Regions from separate parts of the Homo sapiens genome. Here region 1 is linked to region 2. The links come from fine-mapping of genetic effects on gene expression. Tissue or cell type: testis. Region 2 holds a variant in brackets; the other region holds the start of a gene. All regions are shown on one strand. Distances are from middle to middle.

What was found. PIP is the estimated chance that this variant, and not a neighbour inherited with it, causes the effect.
Region 1: WDR88 starts here. The variant in region 2 is fine-mapped to the expression of WDR88 in testis (GTEx, PIP above 0.99).

Annotation. Positions count from the first base shown.
Region 1 is chr19:33,126,969-33,135,146 of GRCh38, reverse strand. WDR88 (WD repeat domain 88) reads right to left here and starts at 3,033. Exons shown (of 11, transcript NM_173479.4): 1 at 2,702-3,033. The coding sequence starts at 2,977. It overlaps GPATCH1 (G-patch domain containing 1), which reads right to left. Exons shown (of 20, transcript NM_018025.3): 20 at 4,605-5,017. The coding sequence ends at 4,987. RefSeq lists enhancers at 140-189, 3,027-3,196, 7,665-7,834 and silencers at 270-389, 5,954-6,098.
Region 2 is chr19:33,151,126-33,159,303 of GRCh38, reverse strand. It overlaps WDR88 (WD repeat domain 88), which reads right to left. Exons shown (of 11, transcript NM_173479.4): 6 at 7,994-8,123; 7 at 2,762-2,949. Among named protein-coding and RNA genes, the nearest start is that of TRT-AGT1-3, 22 kb to the left of the region's middle. RefSeq lists a cis regulatory region at 7,937 and an enhancer at 7,853-8,022. The variant G/A (reference allele first, on the strand shown) is at 4,461.

The DNA.
Region 1 (8,178 bases), 24 kb after region 2:
TAAATTATATGGTACGTGAATTATATCTCAGTAAAACTGGGGGGAAAAAAAGAGGACAGAGCAGGGAAGCCTGAAGATGTCACCCCCCCCACCCACCCACCCCAGCTCGCGCATGGCGACACGTCCCAGGTTGAGCTGCGGAAGTGTGGGGGTGGGGGAAATGTTGGAGGCAAGACCAGGGGTGTGGCCTGGAAGGCAGTGTCAGGGTGCTGGGCTGAGTTGGCAGGAGGACAGGGGTGAGGGGATGCGACGGTTCAGGGCGGCGGTGGCCTTCCGGTTGCAGGTGATGCGGGGCGGGGGGGGGGGTGTCGGGGACGTGCAGGTGGAGATGCAGGGGATGAGATGATACCCCGCCTCTAGGGGGCTCGGGGACACGAGGACACTGGAACGCGGGCTCCGTTGCCAGGGAGCGTGGAGAGCTGGGACCGGGCTTTTCTCCGGGGGAGTTCGCTAACCCCGTCGGGCCAGGCCGGGGCCGCGCGTGCAGGGTTGGCTCCCTACCCCAGGAGCGGCCCCAGTCCCCGGGACATGACCTGCGCGGCCCTCCCGCACCGCCCCCGCCTCTGGCGACCCCAGCCCCTGCCGCCCCTGCAGGGTTTGGGTTATCTCTCTCATTAGGAAAACCCAACTATCATTAAAAATTGAAATTAAATTGGCTGGGTGCAGTGGCTCACGCATGCAATTCCAGTGCTTTGGGAGGCCCAGGAGTGAGGATTGCTTGAGGCCAGGAGTTTAAGACCAGCCTGGGCAACATGGCGAGACTCCCCCTCTCTACAAAAAAAATCAAAATTAAAATTAATAATTTAAAAAATATATAATTTAATTTAAAAAATAGGAAAACAAAAAACCTAGAACTCCATCATGGAAAAACATTAGCAAGAGGGGGGAACCATTCCGCTACCCCCACCACAGGCTTTTCTGGGGCTCTCGTTTCAGGTTTTTTTCTGCACACAGTCCCTTGGGATCCACTAGGTAAAGGGGTCCCAGGGGCTGCAGAGAGAAGTCCCCAACACATGAGTACATTTCAGAGGTGCTGACAAAGCTCATGCAGAGGACAGAGCAAAAACAAAACGGTTCTTCTATGCGTAGCGTTCATTCACATATTCCACAAATAAACCTCAAGAGCCTCCTCCCCCATGGGGCCTGGACCTGATGCTGCAGCTCAGCAGCCACCTAGGAGCAAAGTCCCTAACCTCGAGGGGCCAGTTGCTGGCAGCCAGAGGACACCTTGAGGACGGAACGGGGATGTCAGACCATGGCATGAGGCACGGAGGAGACAGTGGCCCTGGCTACTTTAGACGGGCGGTCAGGGAGGGCCTCCCCAAGAGCGCAATACCGTGGGGGCAGGGAACCGCCAAGATCCCTGAGGCCAGACCTGCTTGTAGGTCAGCAAGACAGGGGGATGGGGGAGGAGAACATGGAGAGGTGCCAGATTTGAAATGGCCTGGAAGGCCACAGGCAGATCGCCAGACTTCATCTTAAACATGCTGGGAAGCCAGGCAGAGGTTTCGAGGAAATTATTAAAAACACACTCTGACATCTGCATGTGAGTGCAATAAATCAAGGCCAAGCATGAAACGCTACTTATTGAGAATGTTCTTTATTGGGTTTTTGTTTTGTTTTGTTTTTGAGATGGAGTGAGATGATCTCAGCTCACTGCAACCTCTGCCTCCCGGGTTCAAATGATCTTGCTGCCTCAGCCTCCTGAGTAGCTGGGATTACAGGCACGCACCACCATGCCTGGCTAATTTTTGCATTTTTAGTAGAGAAAGGGTTTCACCATGTTAGCCAGGCTGGTCTCGAACCCTTGACCTCAAGTGATCTGCTCATCTCGGCTTCCCAAAGTGCTGGGATTACAGACATGAGCCACTGCACCCAGCCAGTTTTTCTTTCTTTCTCCTTCTTTCTTTCTTTTTCTTTTTCTTTCTTTCTTTCTCTCTCTCTCTCTATATTTATTTATTTATTTATTTATTTATTTATTTATTTATTCTGGAGACAGTCTCGCTCTGTTGCCCAGGCTGGAGTGCAGTGGCACAATCATAGCTCACTGCAGCCTTAAACTCCTGGGTTCAAGGGATCCTCTTGCCTCAGCCTTTCAAGTGGCTGGGACCACAGGTGCGCCCCATCACACTGGGCTAAGTTTATTTCTTGTAGAGACGACCTCTCACTATGTTGCCCAGGCTGGTCTCAAACTCCTGGGCTCAAGTGATCCTCCCACCTGGGCCTCCCAAAGGGCTGGGATTACAGGTGTGAGCCACCTTGCCTGGCCCAATTCATTGTTGTTATTATTATTCTGAGTTTCCCGTTTCTTCTGACGCTAACTGTATCTCCTGGACGGGGAGAGCTGAGCCACCGACCCTTGGGCTGCAATTAGGAGCATCACTGTGGGTGGGCCTACCTACGGAGACTCCAAGGTCTAGATGGGGTCACATGGTGGGGCAGAGCCTCCTCCCAGCGAAGAGTCCTGGTTCCCCAGCAGGTGGCAGTGCGGGGAGCCCCCGCCGGCATCCCCAGCACGCCCTGCTCAGGTGGGTCTGACCTTTGCCCACAGATGTACCACAGATGGGGAAATGGGCCTAGGGCCTCGCTGGGGGTCCTGGTGAAGCCAGGTGGGTTTTCCATGGGTCCCCCGACAGCTCGAGCGCCTTCCTCCCGTGTGGGGAACAGGCCAGTGCCCCCTCACCCCAGCGGCGGTTCTGACCTTGGAGAGAGGGTCCTGGTCGCCCCAGATCAATTTCTCCGGCACCTGGTGCTTCTCAGGCAACAGATGCGGTGGTGGTTCCCTGTCCAAGGCCAGGGGGTCGAGGGTGGCCAGCAGGTGCGTGTGCGGGATCGACAGCTTGAAGCGGCCTAAGGCCCTCGCCATGGTCCCCCAGGACAGCTTGCCGGGACAATACTCGCTGGCGGGGGCGGAGGGTGGCGGCAACTTGCATTCCCTGTCATGGGCTGTCGGGGAGCACCGCGGCGGGGAGGCCATCTCGAAGCCCGGTCCGCCGGTGGCCGCCGACAAGCCTGGATGGGAACGGTGGCGCCGCGCGCCCGCGCCCGCGCCCGCACCAAGCCCTTCGGAGGCGCGCGCTACGCTGGGCCCGCGACTTCGCTGCCTCCTCGCCCGCTGGGTGAAAACTAGTGCCACCCCGCGCAGCACAGGTTACCTATAGAAAAATGGGCTTTGCAGCCGGGCGCGGTGGCTCACGCCTGTAATCCCGGCACTTTGGGAGGCCGAGGCGGGCGGATTACCTGAGGTCAGGAGTTGGAGACCAGCCTGGCCAACAGGTTTAGTGAAACCCCATCTTTACTTAAAAAAAATAATAACAAAAATTAGCCAGGCATGGGGGCGTGCGCCTGTAGTTCCAGCTACATGGGAGGCTGAGGCAGGGGAATGGCTTGAACCCAGGAGGTGGAGGTTGCAAAAAAAAGAAAAATGGGCTTTGCATTCTGGGAACCAGGCCGAGCCAGCAAAACCAGCACCCCAGCCTCCAGCCCTCCGCTGTGGTTTCCCTGGCTCCTGTCACAGGGCAATTTCTTCATGTCCTCTGCCTGGGTACAGCTCCTGGCCAACCCACTTCATGACAAAACAGAAAAGGTCAGTAAGTTATGGGGTAGCCCCTGCATGAAATAAGATGCAGTTATTAGGGGTGGGTTTACAACATTTATAATAGATGAGGGAAATATCTGTCACAACCCCAACAACAGTGACAGGGAATAAAATGCTACCACCAGTCAGATAACAGCCCCATAGCTAGAAAAGGACAGGGTGGAATTATTCAAAATATTGAAGAAGGGTGTCATCTTTGGATGATAAAACTAAAAGTGATTTTCTTCCTTCTTTTTTTTTTTTTTTTTTTTTGGTGGAGACAAGAGTCTGTCACCCAGGCTGGATTGCAGTAGCGCAATTTCGGCTCACTGCAACCTCCACCTCCAGGGTTCAAAGGATTCTCGTGCCTCAGCCTCCCACACAGCTGGGATTACAGGTGTATGCTCACCAGACCTGGCTAATTTTTTTGTATTTTTAGTAGAGACAAGGTTTCGCCATGTTGGCCAGGCTGTTTTTGAACTCCTGGCCTCAAGTGATCCGCTGGCCTCGGCCTCCCAAAGTGCTGGGATTACAAGCATGGGCCACCGCACCCGGCCTCTTCCTTCTTTCTGCTTTTAAAATTGTTGTGATCTATGATGCTACTTTCATAATGTAAAATACAAATGCTCAATACTTTATTTTTTGTGGAGACAGGGGTCTCTATGTGGCCCAGGCTGGTCTGGAATTCCTGGGCTCAAGCAATCCTCCCGCCTCGGCCTCCCAAAGCTCTGGGATTACAGGCATTAGCCATCACACCTGGTCTGCACTTTATTTTTCAAAAAGGTCTCCTTGGTACACATGAGGTGGCCTCAGAGCAGGGAGCTGCAGCCGTGTAACCCAGGCTGTGGGTGCACATTCTCCTGCCTGGTTTCCCTGCCTGTCTCAGACACTTTAGTGACATCTACCCTGAGAGGCTGAGGCCCCCTGCCAGGCCCTGGCTCTGCCCTCCCATGGGGCTTCCTGGGCACCAACAGTAACCCAGCCACCCAGAGAGGGAAGAGCTTCACTCCCAAAAAACGGCAGGAGGGGCCGCAACCGCCCCTTCTCACACGCTTGTCCTTCAGTGAGTCCAGGCTGTCTTCATCACAAAACCAGAGAGAAGCCTTCACTTTTAACTTCTTTTTTAACGTCCCAGGAAATTTTTTAAAAATCAAGAAGAAAATAGAAAAATTCCACTTTAATTAAACTGTTCAGTCTGGATTTTTTTCCCCCGATACTAACTGAAATTAAAAATAGAAATCAATTTCTGCGACCTTTCAAGGCAGTCTTTGAAATGTCAAGGTTTTAAAAATTATTTTACAGCAGGAATTTACATATAAATACACTCTGTACAATGCGTTAACTGAACAATCACTGGGCTTCCATCATGGAGGAGAAATGATTCTAGGACGAGCCAGGGCAGCATTCAATTACTGCCTTCTTAGTGGAAGACTTTTCAGCCTGGAAAAGAAAACAGAAAAGAGAGAAATGGAAAGTTAGCTAAAGTGAAAAACCAAACAGCTCCGTGGAGGCTGAGAATGCCAGGCCTCCCCATATCACAGCAGCATGTCTGCACCTACAAAATGCACTCACAATAACCCACAATGAAGTACTGCCTAATCTGTGCTTTTTTTTTTTTTTCCCCCGAGATGGAGTCTCACTTTTGTCGCCCAGGCTGGAGCGCAGTGGTGCGATCTCAGCTCACTGCAACCTCCGCCTCCCAGGTTTAAGCAAGTCTCCTGCCTCAGCCTCCAGAGTAGCTGGGATTACAGGCACATGCCACCATACCCAGCTAATTTTTGTATTTTTAGTACAGATGGGGTTTCACCATGTTGGCCAGGCTTGTTTCGAACTCCTGACTGTGATCTGCCCGCCTCGGCCTCCCAAAGTGCTGGGATTACAGGCATGAGCCACCGTACCCGGCCAATCTGTGTTCTTAAAATGCTTCTTCTATTACCCTGAAAACACACAGAGACTCACTCACCCACACCTCGTATTAAGACCACTTATAAAAGCAACTTTTTTCCCTAGTCTTATTTAGCCTTGAGAATACAAGCAATTTTTAATCTCAGTTTCACTCACCTACCGCATCCGTTGCATGACCCTTGGGAAGGAACTAAAATACATTCACTCCAGGGCCCAAAGCATCCAAGTTGTCTTTTTTTTTTTTTTAATTTTTTTATAGAGACAGGGTCTCCCTATATTACCCGAGCTGGTCTTGAACTCCTGGGCTCAAGCGATCCTCCCATCTTGACCTCCCAAGGTATTGGGATTACAGGCATGAGCCACCATGCCCAGCCCCCAAGTTGTCAGTCTTAAATCTGAATTTCTTTTCTTTTTTTTTTTTTGAGACAGAGTCTCTGTCACCCAGGCTGGAGTACAGTGGCGCGATCTCGGTTCACTGCAACCTCCACCTCCCAGGTTCAAGCGATTCTCCTGCCTCCACCTCCTGAGTAGCTGGGACTACAGGCACGTGCCACCACGCCTGGCTAGTTTTTTTAGTAGAGATGGGGTTTGGGGTTTCATTGTGTTAACCAGGATAGTCTCGATTTCCTGACCTCATGATCCGCCTGCCTCGGCCTCCCAGAGTGCTGGGATTACAGACGTGAGATACCGCACCTGGCCTAAATCTGAATTTCATACATATAGGAATGTTCGTGGCAGTTCTATTTGAAACAGAGCTGGGTCACACTGGCTGAAAATCCCTGCTCCACAGACTCAAAGTAAAAAACCCAGTATCCACACAACAGAAGAGATAAACATACCGTGGTGTGCTCACAAGAAGGAATCTTCCACAGCAATGACTACAAGCCCCTCACTGCTGCCTACCATCATCTGAAGGAATCTCAGAAGCCAGACACTCAAAGAATTCACACAACACCCTTCTTCCCAATAAAGATAAAACTGGCAAGAGCAGGCCTGCGCAGCGGCTCACGCCTGAGGCTGAGGCAGGAGGATCACTTGAGGCCAGGAGTTCGAGACCAGTTTGGGCAACATAGGAGATCCCATCTCTACAAAAAAGATTTTTTTAGGCCGGGTGTGGTGGCTCACGCCTGTAATCCCGGCACTTTGGGAGGCCAAGGCAGGCGGATCACCAGGTCAGGAGATTGAGACCATCCTGGCTAACACGGTGAAACCCCGTCTCTACTAAATATACAAAAAATTAGCTGGACGTGGTGGCGGGTACCTGTAGTCCCAGCTACTCAGGAGGCTGAGGCAGGAGAATGGCGTGAACCCAGGAGGTGGAGCTTGCAGTGAGCCAAGATCGCGCCACTGCACTCCAGCTTGGGTGACAGAGCAAGACTCTGTCTCAAAAAAAATGATTTTTTAAAAAAATTAGCTGGGTGTGGTGGTGCACACTTACAGTCCCAGCTACTCTGAAGGCTGAGGTGGGAGGATCCCTTGAGCCGGAGAGGCAGAGTTTACAGTGAGCTGTGATCAGGCCACTGCACTCCAGCCTGGGTCACAGAGCGAGACTCTGTCTCAAAAAATAAAATAAAATTCATACCCTATAAATATATGCTATATAAAATTATATTACTTATATTTAAAATGTGCACAAAAATCTGTATATAGGCCAGGCATGGTGGTTCACACCTGTAATCCTGGCACTCAGAGGCCAAGGTGGGTGTATCACCTGAGGTCAGGAGTTTGAGACCAGCCTGGCCAACATGACGAAACACTGTCTCTACTAAAAAAATACAAAATACAAAAATTAGCTGGGTGTGGGGGCGGGTGCCTGTAATCCCAGTTGCTTGGGAGGCTGAGGTAGGAGAACTGCTTGAACCCGGGAGGCAGAGGTTGCACTGAGCCAAGATCGCACCACTGCACTCCAGCCTGGGTGACAGAACGAGACTCGTCTAAAAAAGAAACAAACAATGTGTATGTGCATCCATGTACGTGAGTGTGTATGTGTGTGTGTGTGGTTGCACAAAAAAGGTCTTAAAGGTTACATATGAAACTGATGGCAGAAGTTACTGTGGAGAAAGTAGAGGTTTGGAGAACTAGTCAGGGCTCCTTTAAGCATTGGCTGTAAGGTCTGAATTTTCTTTTCTTTTTTTTTTTTTTTTTATTGAGACAAGAGTCTCGCTCTGTCGCCCAGGCTGGAGGGCAGTGGCACAATCTCGGCTCACTGCAAGCTCCGCCTCCCAGGTTGACGCCATTCTCCTGCCTCAGCCTCCCCAGCAGCTGGAACTACAGGCACACGCTCCACGCCCAGCTAATTTTTGTATTTTTAGTAGAGACGGGGTTTCTCTGTGTTAGCCAGGATGGTCTCGAGCTCCTGACCTTGTGATCCACCCGCCTCGGCCTCCCAAAGTGCTGGGATTACAGGCATGAGCCACCGCGCCTGGCCTGAATTTTCATAATGATAATATATTCACATATCACTTACATAATTAGATATTCAAACTTTTTAAAAAGCCTAGTTAATACACACATTTTTTTTTTTCTTTTAGGGAGAGGGTCTTGCTCTATCACCCAGGCTGGAGTGTAGTGGTACGATAGTGGCTCACTGCAACCTCCAACTCCCGGGCTCAACAGATCCTCCCACCTCAGCTTCCCAAATAGCTGGAGGCACAGGTGTGCACCACCACGCCCAGCTAATTTGTTTTTTGTTTGTT
Region 2 (8,178 bases):
TAGAGTGCAGTGATGCAATCAGCTCACAGCAGCTTCAAACTCCTGGTCTCAAGCAATCCTCCCACTTCAGTTACCAAGTAGCTGGGACTACAAGCAGGTGCCAGCACACCTGGCTAAATTTTTTTTTTTTGTTTTGGTAGAGATGGGGTCTCACTATGTTGCCCAGGCTGATCTCAAACTCCTGGGTTCAAGCAATACTCCCGCCTCAGCACCCCCCCAGCACTGAAATTAAAGCTGTGAGCCACCACACACGGCCAAGGGAGCCATTTTACACAGCAAAATCACTAACAAAAAGCAAAAGAAAGCCCAGGTGTGGTGGCTCACGTCTGTAATCCCAGCACTTTGGGAGGCTGAGGCAGGCAGATCACATGAGGACAGGAGTTCAAGACCAGCCTGGACAACATGGCGAAACCCCATCTCTACCAAAAATACAAAAATTAGCCAGGCATGGTAGTGCGCACCTGTAATCCAAGCTACTTGGAAGGCTGAAGCAGGAGAATCGCTTGAACCCAGGAGGCAGAGGTTGCAGTGAGCCAAGATCGCGCAACTGCGCTCCAGCCTGGGCAACAGAGGGAGCAAAACAAACAAACAACAACAAAAAAAAATGGTGGCACTAAATAGACCACAAAAAGGACATTTTACCACGTGGGAGGTGAAACAAGAAGGCAGAGTGTTGCCTTGTCCAACCTCAGCTGGGAGGTGACTTAGATTTTTTGCTGCTCTTCACATCTGTGAGTGACCTTGAAAGTGCCATGAATGTTGACTTTAGGTTTACAAATAAATATCAGCAAGTAGGTGACTTCACAAATACAGAATCAGGAATAATAATGATTAACTGCATGTGATTCTTTTTTTTTTCTTTCTTTTTTTCTTTTTTTGAGACAGAGTCTCACTCCGTCACCCAGGCTAGAGTGTAGGAGCGCAGTGGCACAATTTTGGCTCAACTGCATGTGATTCTGAACCCCATAAAGCCAAGGACAGAAGCTGGCAGGGTGCCTCACAGTGGGACTTAGACAAGGGGTGCTGCTGAAGAGGGAAAGTTGCCCAGAAGCACCCTAGTGCTTCTCAAGCCAGGCCCCAGTGGCATGTGTGCCAGCTGAGGCCCCCAGACACACAGAGCAAGCCCCACTTCTCACCAGGATAGGGGAGCATATGTTTGGCTCCTGAGTGTCAAGAGCACCCACTTCCCTCCCTGGAGCTGGCTAGCCGCGGTGGCTTCCTGTCACTGCCCCCATTCACCTCTATGTCCCTTTATCTGGCAACAGCTCCCAATTTCCTGTGGGGAAACACTCCTTGCCTACTCTTAGTCCCTCTGCATCAGGGGGTTCTGACCCCAACCCTAGCTCTGCAGGTGGGCAAGTCACCCAGACCTGGCCAATCAGAGGCTTTCGTTGCCCCCTAAGTGATTCATTAAGAGATGGACATGTGTCCCAAGCTGAGCCAATGGGAGTCTTCCCTGGGACTTGTTCTGGCACCATCAGACAGAAGGTCTCTTTCTCCAGGACTGCCAGGGGCCAGAACTAGGCTGAGCTGGACCACTAAAGGTCCTCTTTACCTCTTTAATTTTATATATATATATATATATATATATATATATATATATATATATATATATACATACATACACACACACACATACATACATATATACATACACACACACATATATACACATACATATATATATACACATATATATACATATATACACATATATACATATATATACACATATATACATATATATATACACATATATATACATATATATATATATACACATATATATACATATATATATATATTGAGACAGAGTCTCGCTCTGTCACCCAGGCTGGAGTGCAGTGGTGCAATCTTGGCTCACTGCAGCCTCCGCCTCCCGGGTTCAAGCGATTCTCCTGCCTGAGGCTCCCGAATAGCTGGAATTACAGGCATCCACCACCACACCTGGCTAATTTTTGTATTTTTTAGTAGAGATGGGGTTTCACCATGTTGGCCAGGCTGATCTTGAACTCCTGACCTCAGGTGATCCGCCCACCTCAGCCTCCCAAAGTGCTGGGATTACAGGCATGAGCCATTGTGCCTGGCCTTTTTTTTTTTCTTTTTAGACACAGGGTCTCACTCTGTTGCCCAGGCTGGAGTGCAGTAGCACAATCATAGCTCACTGCAGCCTCAAACTCCTGGGCTCAAGTGATCCTCCCACCTCAGCCTCTTGAAGAGCTGAGACTACAGGTGTGCACCACCACACCCAGCTAATTTTTTAATTTTTTTGTAGAGACAGGGTCTTGCTGTGTTGCCCAGGCTGGTCTTGAACTCCTGGCTTCAAGCAGTCCTCCCACCTTGGCCTCCCAAAGCATTGGGATTACAGGCATAAGGCACCTCATCCGGCCATCTTTGCCTCCTTGGGGGTAAAGGCTGATACAGAGGGAAGCTAGGTTGAAAGACAGAGTGGAAGGGTTGGGTTCCCAACAGCATTGACTCTCTTGTCCCATCCATGCCTGAAGTCAGACGTGCTCTTGGACTTTTCCATTACAGGATTAATCAATTTCTTTGGTTGCATACGCCACATTGAGCTGAGTTTCTACCACTGTAAACTGGTACCTGTGGTCTTCCCTCTTGGGTTTTTTGTTCTCGTGGGGAAGAATCCGCCCTCCCTGTCAGCATCATTGGAAATTGCCTCTCTGTCCATTTGAACGGAACATGGAGAACTCTGCCCAGCACTCCCACAGGAATGGAGGCCTTCTGCATGTTAATTACTCACTGTCTCTGGCAAAGTGACAGGAACTGACAGAACCTTCATGGCCCTGCATCAGAGTCACACAGGCTCCACAGTTTCGAAACTCCCCTGTGTGGACGTTCCATATTTTTAAGTTTTTATCCCAGGAGCTTGTACACAGGAAATGGCCACTGAAGGTAAAACAGCAGTTTGAGATTGCATTGGAATGTGCCCTGAAACACAGATGGTGGGGTGCACACATTAGCGCTTTGCTCCTGGAGGACCTGAAGACATACCTAAAGCCGGGGGTATTTTCTCCTGTGAGCTCATGGTCGGGCTGCACATGCTAGCACTTCGCCCCAAGAGGACCTGAAGACATACCTAAGTGGGGGTCAGCATCTCCTGTGAGCTCATGTTCATCATGCCTTTGATCACTGCCTACCATGGTCCAGATGTGAATTGCTCAGACTGTCACGCTGTTCCAGCATTTCTCGACTGCACCAATTTTTAGAAAAATAATAATAGAGACAGTGTTTCGCTATGTTACCCAGGCTGCTCTCAAACTCCTAGGCTCTAGTGGTCCACCTGCCTTGGCCTCCCAAAGTAGTGCTGGGATTACAGGCGTGAGCCACGGCACTGGGCCAACCACACCAAGGTGGACATTTTGAGCTGGGTCACTCAGAGTTGTGGGGGCCGTCCTGTGTTCTGTAGGAGGTGGAGCAGCATCCCTGGCCTCTCCTGGCTAGATGCCAGGAACCCCCACACCCAGTTGTGACAACAAAACATGAGTCCAGACATTGTCAAATGTCCACTGGGGCACAAATTGCCCTCATTTGGGAAGATTCTGCAGTATTCCCTTGGCGCTGGAGGGAAAAGCAGCTGGTGTCAGGAGTGATTGATTGACAGACAGCCTTTGGGGCTTGGTGCTGGGTGGCGCTTACACAGAGGCTCTCTCCTGCTCCCCATCTTTCCCCCAACAATGTCAGGCGTGGTCTCCCCCTGTTCCACCCCTCTCTTACTTACTCCTCTGCTTCTCCACCCCAACTATTCACTCTCCCTTTTTCTCACTCCTATCCTCATTTGTCTTCAGTGCTATTCAAGTATATTTCAGTGTTGTATATTTAATTAATAAAATTGTGGGTTATTTGGCTGGGTGCAGTGGCTCATGCCTATAATCCCAGCACTTTGGGAGGCCTAGGTGGAAGGATTGCTTGAGCCCAGGATTTTGACACCAGCCTGGGCAACATAGCAAGACCCCATCTCTACAAAAAATATAAAAATTAGCTGGGCATGGTGGCACATGCCTGTAGTCCCAGCTACTCTGGAGGCTGAGGCAGGAGAATCACTTGAACCCAGGAGGTGGAGGTTGCAGTGAGCCAAGATTGTGCCATTGCACTCCAGCCTGGGCAACAGTGCAAGACTCTATCTCAGAAAAAAAATGAAGTTATTCATTCCAATTTTTAAGCATCTTCTTTTTCAGAAAAATAATAATAATAAAAAGCCTGTCTGTATTTTGCCACTTTTTGTTTGTAACCCTCAATGTCTTTCTCCTGTGATTCTCACCTCCTCTTGTAAGCAGAGTTTTCTCTGAGTAGCCTGGATCATAAAATCAATCATTTGACCTGAAGAAAAGGTTGAGCAAAACAATTTTCTAGAGCTCAGATCAGAGTTTTGGAACCCATTTTGGTTCTTTGAAAGGCACAAACTGAGCAACGCCAAAGGAGAAGAAATGTCAACTTCGCAG[G/A]GCCATCCGGGATAAACCTCACCAATTCCCAGTGCCTGGTGAGCTAAGAACCATGCTGGCATATCATGGAGGTTTGACTGCAAGCTCTCCCAGCAGCCAGACACTGTCATTGAGGTTTAAACCAGAGGTATACCCAGAGGATTATAAATCATTCTTCTATAAATACACATGCACACGTATGTTTATTGCAGCATTATTCACAATAGCAAAGACTTCGTGTCAACCCAAATGCCCATCAATGATAGACCGGATAAAGAAAATGTGGTACATATACACCATGGAATACTATGCAGCCATGAGAAAGAATGAGATCATGTCCTTTGCAGGGACATCATCCTCAGCAAACTAACACAGGAACAGAAGACCAAACACCACACGTTCTCATTCATAAGTGGGAGTTGAACAGTGAGAACACATAGACACAGGGAGGGGAACATCACACACTGAGGCCTGTCAGGGGGTGGGAGGCAAGTGGAGGGAGAGCATTAGGGCAAATACCTAACACATGCGGGGCTTAAAACCTAGATGACGTGTTGATAGATGCAGCAAACCACCGTGGCACATGTGTACCTATGTAACAAACCTGCACATTCTGCACATGTGTCCTGGAACTTAAAGTAAAAAAAAAGACATAGCAATTTCTAAATAAATAAATACATAAATAAATAAATAAATAAACCAGAGGTATCTCTATGGACTCTCATTTCACATAAATCCCACTTCTCGTAGAAGGCCATTTCACCTGTACAGAAGTTTGGGGAAAATGGCTATGCTGCACGTACAGTTCTGGACAAGATGGAGTCAACTTTAAAAGTAATTTTTTTAAATGGCTGAAATTTTACCAAATTTGGCAAAATATATAAACCTACAGATTCAAGAATCTGAGTAAAACCCAACAGGATAAATCCAAAGAAATCTACACCCAGACACATAATTACACTTCAGAAAACTAAGGACAACAAAAATATCTTCAGAGCAGCAAGAGAGAAATGACTTTTTACCTATAGGAGAAAAACAATATGAATGACAGTGTAAATGAAAACCACAGTGTGGCCAGGCACTGTGGCTCATGCCTGTAATCCCAGCACTTTGGGAGGCCGAGGTGGGTGGATCACAAGGTCAGGAGTTTGAGACCAGCCTGGCCAATGTGGTGAAACCCTGTCTCTACTAAAAATACAAAAATTAGTTGGGCATGGTGGCGGGCGCCTGTAGTCCCACCTACTCGGGAGGCTGAGGCAGGAGAATTGCTTGAACCCGGGAGGCGGAGGTTGCAGCGAGCCGAGATTGCACCCTGCAAATGATATAGCTGATCTTGCTAGAGGATTTAAAAAATTCATAATGTCGGTCGGGCTATATCATTTTCAGTTCTCAGTGCAAAATTAATAAGCAAGATCCCCACTCCTGAAAAAGCTAAGCACAGTATTACCATATGATCCAACAATTCCACTCCTGGGTATACAGAGTAAAGAATTAAAAACAGGCCAGGTGCAGTGGCTCACACCTGTCATCCCAGAACTTTGGGAGGCCAAAGTGAGAGGATCACTTGAGCTCAGAAGTTCAGGACTAGCTTGGGAGACATAATGAGACCCCGTTTCTGCAAAAAAAAAAAAAAAACAAACTTAAAAATTAGCCAGGCATGGTGGTGTGCACCTGTAGTCTCAGCTACTCAGGAAGTTGAGGCAAGAGGATCACTTGAGCCTAGGAATCCGAGGCTCCAGTGAGCTATGATCACGTCACTGCACTCCAGCCTGGGCAACAGAGCAAGACTCTGTCTCGAAATCAAATAAAATAAAAAGAATTGAAAGCAGGAACTCAAAGTTACATGTACATGTGTTCATAGCAGCATTATTCCCAATAACTAAAAGGTAGAAACAGCCTAAGAGGTCATCAACAGATGAACAGATAAACAAAATGTGGTATGTACACCTATAATGCAGTACTATTCAGTCATCAAAAGGAATGAAGTTCTTAATCCCAGCACTGTGGGAGGCCGAGGTGGGTGGATGACAAGGTCAGGAGTTTGAGACCAGCCTGGCCAACATGATGAAACCCCGTCTCTACTAATAATACAGAAATTAGCCAGGTGTGGTGGTGGGCGCCTGTAATCCCAGCTACTCAGGAGGCTGAAGCAGGAGAATCACTTGAACCCAGGAGGCAGAGGTTGCAGTGAGCCAAGATGGCACCACTGCACTCCAGCCTGGGGGACATAGCGAGACTAAGTCTCAAAGGAAAAAAAAGGAATGAAGTTCTGATGTTCTGATGCAGGCTACAACACAGATGAACCTTGAGGACATTATTTTAAGTGAAATAACCTAATCACAAGAGGACAAATAATGTATGACTCTACTTATATGAAATATCTAGAATAGGCAGATTCATAGAGACAGAAAGTAGAATAAACATTACCCAGGGCTGGGGGCATGGGGAATGGGGAGTTATTGCTTAACGGGTAAGAGCTTCTGTCTGAGATGATGAAATCATTTTGGAAATAAATAGTGGTGATGGTTGCACAACACTGTGAATGTAATGAATGGCAGAGAATTGCACACTTAAAAATGGTTAAAATATCATGTTTTATGTTGTGTGCGTGTATATATATATATATATATTTTGAGACAGAGTCTCACTCTGTCACCTAGGCTGGAGTGCAGTGGCACAATCTTGGCTCACTGCAACCTCCACCTCCCGGATTCAAGCTATTCTCCTTCCTCAGCCTCCTGAATAGCTGGGATTACAGGTGCCCGCCACCACGCCCAGCTAAGTTTTGTATTTTTACTAGAGGTGGGGTTTCACTATGTTGACCAGGCTGGTCTCGAACTCCTGACCTCAGGTGATCCGCCCCACTCGGCCTCCCAAAGTGCTGGGATTACAGGCATGAGCCACCGAGCCCAGCCCCAAAATTTTTTTAAATGATAATGTAATATCTCCAAAACGACTGAATTCACTTTATTTATTTATTTTTTTTAGACAGGGTCTTACTTCATTGTCCAGGCTGGGGTGCAGTGGTGCAATCATAGCTCACAGCAGCCTCAAACTCCTAGGCTCAAGCAATCCTCCAGCCTCAGCCTCCTGAGTAGCTGGGACTACAGGTGTGTGACACCACACCCAGCTAATTTTTAAATTTTTTGTAGAGATGGGGTCTTGTGACATTGCCCAGGCTGGTGTTGAACTCCTGGCCTGAAGTGATCCTCCCACTTTGGCCTCCCAAAGCTCTGGGATTATAGCCATGAGCCACACGCCCAGCCAGACCTTCCCATTTTACAGGAGATGCTGGAACTTCACCTTTTGTGGACTTCTCTGCACAATGATTTCCACTAGTGGCTCACATTGAAACAAATGCATCTGAGGCCCAGCCCAGCCCACAGGCCACAGCTGATGGCTCCCTCCTGCCTGCCTGTCCCCAGCCTCCTCAGAGCACCTATGACCAAGCTACAGACGTGTCCACATGGATGCTGGCTTATGTGGAATTCAGGAAGTCATGAATGGGGACGCCCCACCCAAACTCCCTTCTGGCCTCCTGGGGTCCAACTCACTTAGTGATGGTGAGCAGCGTGGCCTGGGATGTAACATCCCAGATCTTGATGCACCTGTCCAATGAGACAGAAGCCACCCTCTGGCTGTCGGGGTCAAAGCAGCATGACGTGATGGACCTTGTGTGATGATCTGCAGAACACGGAGGAAAGGGACTTGAGACCACGCCTTCCACCTGCTGGGCTGG